2 separate regions of the Homo sapiens genome follow, and region 1 is linked to region 2. Evidence: fine-mapped expression QTL. A gene starts in region 2. The other region holds a variant in brackets. All regions are shown on one strand. Distances are from middle to middle.

Region 1 (4,383 bases), 16 kb after region 2:
CTGACAGGTGGCGGAGTTCACAGTAATGCTCTGGCAGGGGGTGGAGCTCACACAGTAGCTCACCGGCCCACTGCTCACCTCCTACTGTGCGGCCTGGTTCCTAACAGGCCATGGACTGGTAACAATCTGTGGCCTGGGGATTGGGGACCCCTGATTTGAATAATCAAGGACACACTCACCTAGTAAACCGTCTGCCAAGAAAAAGGAGGAAATGTTAGTTTTCTCCATTCGTTCTCAGGCACCAACATTAATTTGAACTTAGAAATAAACTACAAGGCCAGGCATGGTGGTTTGTTCACACCTATAATTCCAGCACCTTGGGAGGCCAAGGAGGGAGGATCACTTGAGACCAGCCTAGGCAACACAGTGAGACCCTGTCCCTACAATTACAAAATAAATGAGCTGGGCATGGTGGTGCACACCTGTAGCCCCAACTACTCAGAAGGCTGAGTCAGGAAGATCACCTGAGCTGCCCAGGAGTTTGAGGCTGCAGTGAGCTGTGATTGTACTACTGCACCGATCCTGTCTCAAAAAAAAAAAAGAAAAGAAAAAGAAAAAAGAAACTATACAAAATATCTGGATTTTGATGTAACACAATACAAAGATTACATTTGATTTTTAGGTCAACAAATATGACTAAAGTCACAACAGTAAAATATTTCAAATGGATTTGGAAATAAAAGAAAGTTTGTTCATTTATATTTTATTTAAGAGCTGTGCCCAGTTTTATCATCTCACAAGAATGAAGCAAGGGACAAAGGTAAGTGCCACGCTCCCTGGCCACTGGGTTCCTGGCAAGCTCCCAGCCACTAGGTGCCAATCTCCCTTCAATGTACTCCTTCTTCCCCAGAGTGCAGAAGCGTATGAAGACAGTTATGACATGGACACATGCATGAGCTATTATACATAATTACAAAAGCTGATTCTGTCATCACCACATCTTGTCTCATCAGTAGGAGCGAATGGCTGGCGGGACGGTGGCACAGTCAGCCTCGTTCAAAGTTTTGTCGATCACGGGTCTATATTCCAGAGTGACCTTGAAAAGAAGAGTCAGTGGTAAGTTAAGCACAAAAATGTACAAAAAGCCATCTCTTGTGTTCCTTTTGAAAAATTTTAACTATAAAAGTAGATTTATGGCATGTGAACTTTAAGATTCTCAGTGCTTTACAAAAATGCTCCCATCATGTAAAGTGGGAGAACCCTTGTCTATACCAAGACACTTTATGTTTAAACCATCTACTTCCAGTTTTTCTACTTCAAAGTAAATATTTATATAGGTTGAACATCCCTAATCCAAAAATCTGAAATTCTCTAAAATCTGAAACTTTCTGAGCACCAGCATGACATTCAAAAGAAATGTGCTATGGAGTCAGATCTTCCGATTAGGGATGCTCAGACAGTAAGTATAATGCAAATATTCCAAAGTCTGAACAAGCCTGAAATCCACAACGCTTCTGGTCCCAAGGATTTCAGAGAAGGAATACTCAAGCTGTGTATTAAATATGCACACACAGGAAAAGGTAGGCACATATACAAAGAAATTTAAACCATAATGGGTCGTCTCTGGTTAGTGAGCTCTTATTTCAATCTCTTTGTACTTTCTAAAATGAGTATGTATTTCTTGAAAAATCACTAAAACTGGCTGGGGGTGTTGGTTCATGCCTGTTGGGAGGCCAAGACAGGTGGATCACTTGAGCGCAGGAGTTCAAGACTAGCCTGGGCAACGTGGAGAAACCCCATCTCTACAAAACATATAAAAATTAGCCAGGCATGGTGCCATGTGCCCAGGAAGCTGAGGTGGGAGGATCACCTGAGCCTGGGGGAGGTTGAGGCTGCAGTGAGACGAGATCAAGCCAACACATATCAGCCTGGGCAACAGAGATGAGACTCTATCTCAGAAAAACAAAAAAAAACCAAAAAACCCGAACCCGGAAACATTAAAAATAGACTTGTGCTAAGCGAGTGAAGTGTGATTTCTATACACTATCAAGAAATGGCCTTCATGAGAAGTCCTGAAAATGACCTACTGCCTGAATCACAGACACACTAGATGATAGTGAGAGTCCAAAGGTAACTTCCACAGACACAGCTAAGTGATTATACGACTCTTACAAGCTATGAAAAGTTTAAGGGTAAAAGCTTTCTATCTTCATTATTTCTGAATCTTAATGCCCAGCGGAAATGCCACACAGGTGAACTGTGCTTGTGTGGAACAAGGCTGCGACCCCCCTACCACACCCTCGGCTGGCTGTTCCCAGGACGCTGCTCACCGTGTGTGGAAAAAGGCTGCGACCCCCTACCACACCCTCGGCTGGCTGTTCCCAGGACACTGCTCACCCCAACCCCACCTCCATTTCTGCCCTTCTCTGCTTGCTCAGTGCCCAGGGGATGCTAAAGGCTGCACCACATCCCCTCAGCTCCCCTGCAGACGCTTCCAGTTGGCCCAGCCCGTGGGAGGAGAGGGGAGGTGTCTCTTCTGGGCTCCCTTAACGTGGGACTGGTTTCTGGTAATGGCTGTGTGTCCCCACCCCACAGATGCTTTCTCGCTAGGTCCACAATCATCATCTCCTCCCCTACCACCAGGCCTTGGACACTTGCTCCTGCCCAGTGACGTCCATCTGGC[G/C]CACACCACGGAGCAACCCTTCCTTAAGGCTCCTCTGAACCACCTGCAGGAACTGGATTCTGTTTCCAGCCCGAAGCCCGACTGCTGTCGGAGTGCCTTTTTCAGCGGTGCCTCGAATCTGTCGGGAGTTGATTTAAATCTGGCCTGCTCTTCCCCGTTCACCATCAGCAAGGCCAGCCCGCAGGCCTGGGCGGGGCCGTGTGGGTGCTGGGCTGTGGTGAGAACGAGCTCCACACTGACCTTCCCAGTGCCAACGTCCACATAGGACAGGGTGTGCTTCCTCCAGTGCTCCTCAAAGGGCTTCTTCTGTTGCCCCTGGATGGGCTTGGAGTAATCGTACTCATCAATCCGCACCTGAGGCCAGAAACACCATCACGTTTCTTATTACTCTAACAGAGCAATACAGAAAAAACACAGCAGACATTAACATGATCTAAGAGACAGATGCCCTAGAACTCATTCCATTTCCACTTCAGCCCAGGAGGTTGGCACCATCAACATGTTCAGAACCCACGGAGGCCGCATGGCTGGCCAGGGGGTGTGCAGCCAGCAGTGAGTCCACAGTAATCCATGTCCGCATGTTCCCTTAAGCATCCTTTATGTACCTAAGAGTTTATCAAATACTTTGTCTTTTTGCTCCATGTGCTGGGAGACTACCTCAATCTTTTCTTTCAGCCTGTTTTTATTAAAAAAAAATTTTTTTTTTGAGACAGGGTCTGGCTATGTCACCTGGGCTGGAGTGCAGTGGTGTGATCACAGCTTGCCGGAGCCTTGACTTCCCAGGCTCAATCAATCCTCCTGCCTCAGCCTCCTGTGCTACCACCACACCTGGCTCATTTTTTATGTTTTTGTAGAGACACGTTTCGCCATGTTGCCCAGGCTGGTCTACAACTCTGGGGCTCAAGTCATTGGCCTGCCTCAGCCTCCCAAATGCTGGGATTACAGGTGTGAGGCACTGCACCTGGCTTCTATTCTAATTAAAACTGACTGTGACCAACTAAATTTATGCACTGGCCAGGCACAGTGGCTCATGCCTGTAACCCTAGCACTTTGGGAGGCCGAGGTGGGTGGTTCACTTGAGGTCAGGAGTTCGAGACCAGCCCGGCCAATATGGTGAAACCCCATCTCTACTGAAAATACAAAATTAGGCATGGTGGCAGTGTGTCTGTAATCCCAGCTGCTTGGGAGGCTGAGGCAGGAGAATCACTTGAACCCGGGAGGCAGAGGTTGCAGTGAGCTGAGATCACGCCACTGCACTCCAGCCTGGGGGACAGTGAGATTCCTTCTCAAAAAAATAAAAATAAAAATAATAAATTTACTATTATTCTGTATTCTGGCAAACACGGATTCATATACTTTGCAGGAAACTCTTAATACATACAAGGAGACAAGAGCAAGTTCTGAGCAGTGATCACAGCCATCAGCATATTCTAGTGGAGGGTAAATCAGTAAAATTTCATGGTGAATAAAAATGATTTTCCCATTCACCATGTTCAGCTGACTGGAAAGGCTGCCACCAGCCGCCTACACACGGTCCTGAACCAGCCTGTGCGCCTGCCTTGTGGAGCCTTTGTCCTTTTGCTGATGTGGTTTATCCTGAACTTGCATTTGCATCCCAAGCTTCCCTTTCCGTCGTTTTTTGCTATCATATGGGAAAAACTCTTACCAGGCAGAATCCAACACGTGCGCTCTGCACAAAAATCAGTTCATCTGAAGAACAAGTGACCACAGGGCAGGCTCTATAATACCTTTTCCAAACC
Region 2 (4,383 bases):
CGAAGGTCTATTCAGAGAAGTCACCAAGATGCAGTCACCCAGGAAATTCAAGGACCTCCAACTTACCAAAAGGCTTTCGGCTGTACAGAGCTAAGCTTCCTATTCCCCTCCTAAACCTACAATCTAGTTTTCATTTCTCAAGAAGCCTTTCCCTGTGCTCACGCACGCAGTTGTTAGCTGGCTCGGTGAGGCACTCCAAGCAGTAACAGCGGTAGCCACAAAATAAACCAGAAGCATCTCCACTACGAAGCAGTAATAACAATTTGTCCTAATGATTCCTTTGTCCTTGGAAAAACAACTTCAGAAAGTTATCCACTGTGAACAGGGCAGGCTCGCGGCTTCTTGGTCCGGAGACCCAGTTCCCACTGGCCCACTCACCGTTGGAGAGAGCTTGCTGAAGCTCGGTGTCTGATATCACTCCACTCCTGTCTTTATCGACCCTATAACATCAAGAAGACCAAATAAGCTGGCGATCGAAAGTTCAGGAAAAGCAAAACAAACGTCTTCTGTCAACCCTGCACCGACTCTGGAAGGCTCCCTCCTGGAACCTCCGCCTCTCCCGTCCCGCTGAGGAGTACAGCGGAATCAAGGAAGTGCCCCAGGAGCCGACGTCCAGTGTGGTCTTCCCCTAAGAGGACAATCATCTTCACCTCAATCCTTCCCTTCCTTCCTCTCCTGGCCTGTCTGAATTCCCATTTGCACCCGTTTCCCTTTTTCACAGACAAGACAAGATTCCCTCAGATAACTAAGCCATTCCCTGGCCATCAGTCACTACAGTTTCGGACATTCGGTGGAAAAGCGACCAGGGACAGAAGGCGCCGCCATAAAGGTCACCTGGCCCGAGCAGACGCCAGGTCGCTGCTTCTTCCTTGGCTGCTGACATTTTAACAGCGCCCAGGCAGTCTGTTTCCGCTTTCCCCAAACAAGCACCCTGGAGACCCTCCACCTGGCGGCTCTTGAGGCGAGAAAAAGGGCCTAGCCCAGGAGCCGGTGGCCGCGACCTCGGGTCTGCAGTGGCGCACTCTGCATCTTGGGAAGGGCCCGACGCACAGGACAGGGACCGGGCAGGAGGCAGGGGCGGCCCCAGGAGACCGGGCAGCGGACGGGGGAGACCGCGGGGGACCCGCCAGGGGACGGGGGCGGCCGCGTCGGCTGGGGCAGGGGTCGGGGGCGGCGGCAGGGGACGGGAGGGGGCCGCGGGGGACCCGACAGGGGACGGAGGAGGCCGCAGTAGAACCGGCAGGGAACGGGGTTGGTCGGGGGAGTCGGGACAGGGGTCGGGGCCGCCGCGGCGGAGGCGGGAGGTGCCCGGGCGGTGCCAGGCCGCACCTCTGGAAAACGTTCCACAGGAAGCTCTGGTCCGGCAGCGCCGCGCCTGCAGCAGGCCCAGGGCCGGCCCCAGGGCCGGGGCGGTAAGAGTAGGCGGCCATGGGCCAAGGCACGCGGCTGGGCTGAGGCGCCTGCAGCGACGAGAGACCTCTCAGGCCGACTCCGCTTCCGCCTCTGCCGGGGGCAGGGCCTGGCATTATCACCACTTCCGGGGGCGCAGGAAATGCGTGGTCTCCGGGATGGTCACGGGGTCCCGCGCAGCCAATCCCCTCGCAGCTAAGTTGCCAGGCAACGCCCTGGCGCCTGCGGGGAGGGCGGGGTCTGGGCGCCTGGAGGAAGCCAGAGCTTTGGCGCAGGCCGCCTGCGCGCTGTGCCAGGAAAGCGCTTGGAGAAAATGTCCGGCCCCGCGACCTGGGACAGGAAGTGATGGAGCACGGACTTAGTTTGCCTTTCAGTTCTTGTATAAATAGTTTTGAGGTGAATGTGATTTGCTAACAGTCGGAAACTCTGGGCGGGGCGCGGTAGCTCACACCTGTGATCCCTGCCCTTTGGGAGGCGGAGGCGGGCGGAGCTCTTGAGCCCAGCAGTTCGGACCAGCCTGGGCAGCATGGATAGACCCCATCCCTACAAAAATTACAAAAAGTAGTCGGGCGTGGTGGGCTCCTGTGGTCCCATCTACTCCGTGGGCTGAGGCGGGAGGATTGCCTGAGCCCGGGAGGTCAAGGCCGCAGGGAGCCGAGCTCACTGCACTACAGGGGTGGACAGCGAGACTCTGCCAAAAAAAAAAAAAAAAAAAAGAAAGCAAAAGCAGGCCGGGCGCGGTGGCTCACGCCTGTAATCCCAGCACTTTGGGAGGCCAAGGCCAGTGGATTACCTGAAGTCGGGAGTTCGAGACCAGCCTTGGCCAATTGGGAGACACCCCGTATCTACTAAAAATACAAAACTAACCGGGCGTGATGGTGCACACCTGTAATCCCAGCTACTCGGGAGGCTGAGGCAGGAGAATTGCTTGAAACCGGGAGGAGGAGGTTGCAGTGATCCGAGATCGGGCCATTGCACTCCAGGCCTGGGCAACAAGTGCAAAACTCTGTCTCAAAAAAAAAAAAAAAAAAAAGTCAAAACACAATTCGGGTGGGAAAGGCAGTGTGCAGCATTCTCGGTTGTCTGTTCCGCCCCCAAAAGCTTCCCTCCTTTAGGTTTAACCTGCGCCCCCGTGCTCTGCATCAGCGCGGCCCCTGACCCCGTGCAGCTGGAAACACTGCTGGGCCCCTTCACACCCCTGCCTGCTGGGCCCCTTCACACCCCGGTGGTGGTGCAGCCCTGCCTCCCGCAAGACAGCACTGCCTTCGTGCTGGACACAGTTCTAAGGTGGAGCCTGGAGTGCCTGTAGCACAAATCCCGGAATTGGGAAGTGCCCAGCTTTGGGCCACTGTGATCCCTGGGTCTTTCCCACGCGCGTAGTCTCGTGCCGCCTTCCACCCCGGTCCTGTGTCCTGTGCCCCGGTTCAGAATACTACAATTATTCTCATTATTTCATGGGGTTATTTCAGCTTTTCAGTTTCTTCAGTGCCTCATTCCATGAATGCTAACTTTTTTCATCCTCATACTTCCTAGGGTTGTCTCTGAATTTTCACTCAGTTGTCTACCAAGATGTTGAATGGACCCAGAGCCAAGGACGTGGTCTTTTATCAGTGGCACCTGAGACTTTCTTCCCTGTGGACGCAAATCCATTATTCAGCACTCTGGGCACAGCTACAGATCTGATCAGCTATCCATTCTCCAAACTATCTCATCCTCTGTCCCATTTTTCTGTCTCTCTTGTCCACAAGGCATATACCTGAGAGTTTTCAAATTCCTCAGAGAAATTTAGATATTCTGTGGCTTTGGCATTCACCTAATGTGTTAATCTACAAACCTTTTTTACAGTGTGGATTTTTTTTCATGATGTGAATTCAAGTGGTTTCTAATGGTCTCTTCATAAAGTTGTAAACCAAAAGTAAAATTCTAAGGCCCCACCCCATCTGAATGGACCCCTTCTCTGGGCCAGGGCACTCCAAATTAACCTGAAAACCGTTCAGGCCACGACATGAAGTGGGGGCGGGTGGGACATGGCTGACTATGCCCTCCTCCCTTTTGGAATTCAGGGAAAGCCAACACAGACCTTAAGTCTAATGAGAAACACCATCTATTCTCTCTGAAGCCTGCTACCCCAAGGCTTCTTCTGCTGATAAAACTTTGGTCTCCACAACCTCTTATAACCCAGACATTCCTTTCTATTGGTAATAACTCTCAACTAATTGCCAATCAGAACATTTTTAAATCTACCTATAACCCAGAAGCCCCCACTTTGAGTTGTCCTGCCTTTCTGGACTGAACCAATGTATATCTTGAATAGATTTGATTGATGTCTCACGACCCTCTAAAATGCATAAAACCAAGTTGCACCCCAGCCACCTCCTGAGGTCTGTGTCATGGGCGTGGCCACTCTATTTGGCTCAGAATAAATCTCTTCAAGTATTTCACAGAGGTTCAGCCTTTTCATTGACAAAGTATTCATATCACTTGTTGAAGAATCCTTTCTAGAATCTTCCACAGCTCTTTGAGCTGTAGTTTCTGAAGTCCATCTTTATTCTCCCTCCCATCACTGGCTCCTGTTTTGTTCTCCAGAACTCTGAAAATACTAACAACTATGATTTTGTGACCCAATTTGGAAGTTCTTACAGGGAAACCTCAGCAAGAAACAGCTCAGTGCTAGACGCAGTGGCTCATGTCTATAATCCCAGTACTTTGGGAGGCTGAGGTGGGAGGATCACTTGAGGCCAGAACTTCAAGACTAGCTTGGGCTATTTTAAAATTTTTTAAAAGGGGGAGCATCTCAGTGACTGCAGCAGGCCTCAGCCTCCACTCCCAACAGTTAGTTGGGCTCTACCAACTGTTGGCCGAGTCTCCAACCTGGAGTACCACAGCCATCATCACCCATGGCACCCAGGAGTGCTCCGTCATGCTTTCCCTTTAGTTCTAGGGGTAGAAAATGCCTTCATTCAAGAGAGGACA

Which allele goes with the higher level. Alleles are on the strand shown, and positions count from the first base shown. SD is a standard deviation of normalised expression in the study named.
With allele G in place of C in region 1, the expression in fibroblasts of the gene that starts at base 1,627 in region 2 is lower (moderate effect, 0.64 SD a copy in GTEx).

The links. PIP is the estimated chance that this variant, and not a neighbour inherited with it, causes the effect. A credible set is the group of variants that fine-mapping cannot tell apart.
Region 1: its variant is the best candidate, but not a certain one, in a credible set for the expression of PDCD6-DT in fibroblasts (GTEx, PIP 0.63).

What each region holds. Positions count from the first base shown.
Region 1 is chr5:252,987-257,369 of GRCh38, reverse strand. SDHA (succinate dehydrogenase complex flavoprotein subunit A) reads right to left here. Exons shown (of 15, transcript NM_004168.4): 14 at 2,864-2,977; 15 at 288-1,036. The coding sequence ends at 950. Among named protein-coding and RNA genes, the nearest start is that of PDCD6-DT, 16 kb to the left of the region's middle. The variant G/C (reference allele first, on the strand shown) is at 2,624.
Region 2 is chr5:268,768-273,150 of GRCh38, reverse strand. It overlaps PDCD6-DT (PDCD6 divergent transcript), which reads left to right and starts at 1,627. Exons shown (of 2, transcript NR_104613.1): 1 at 1,627-1,806; 2 at 2,944-3,595. PDCD6 (programmed cell death 6) reads right to left here and starts at 1,505. Exons shown (of 6, transcript NM_013232.4): 1 at 1,330-1,505; 2 at 379-440. The coding sequence starts at 1,430. PDCD6-AHRR (PDCD6-AHRR readthrough (NMD candidate)) reads right to left here and starts at 1,505. Exons shown (of 13, transcript NR_165163.2): 1 at 1,330-1,505; 2 at 379-440. RefSeq lists a silencer at 1,213-1,422 and enhancers at 1,713-1,802, 2,464-3,156.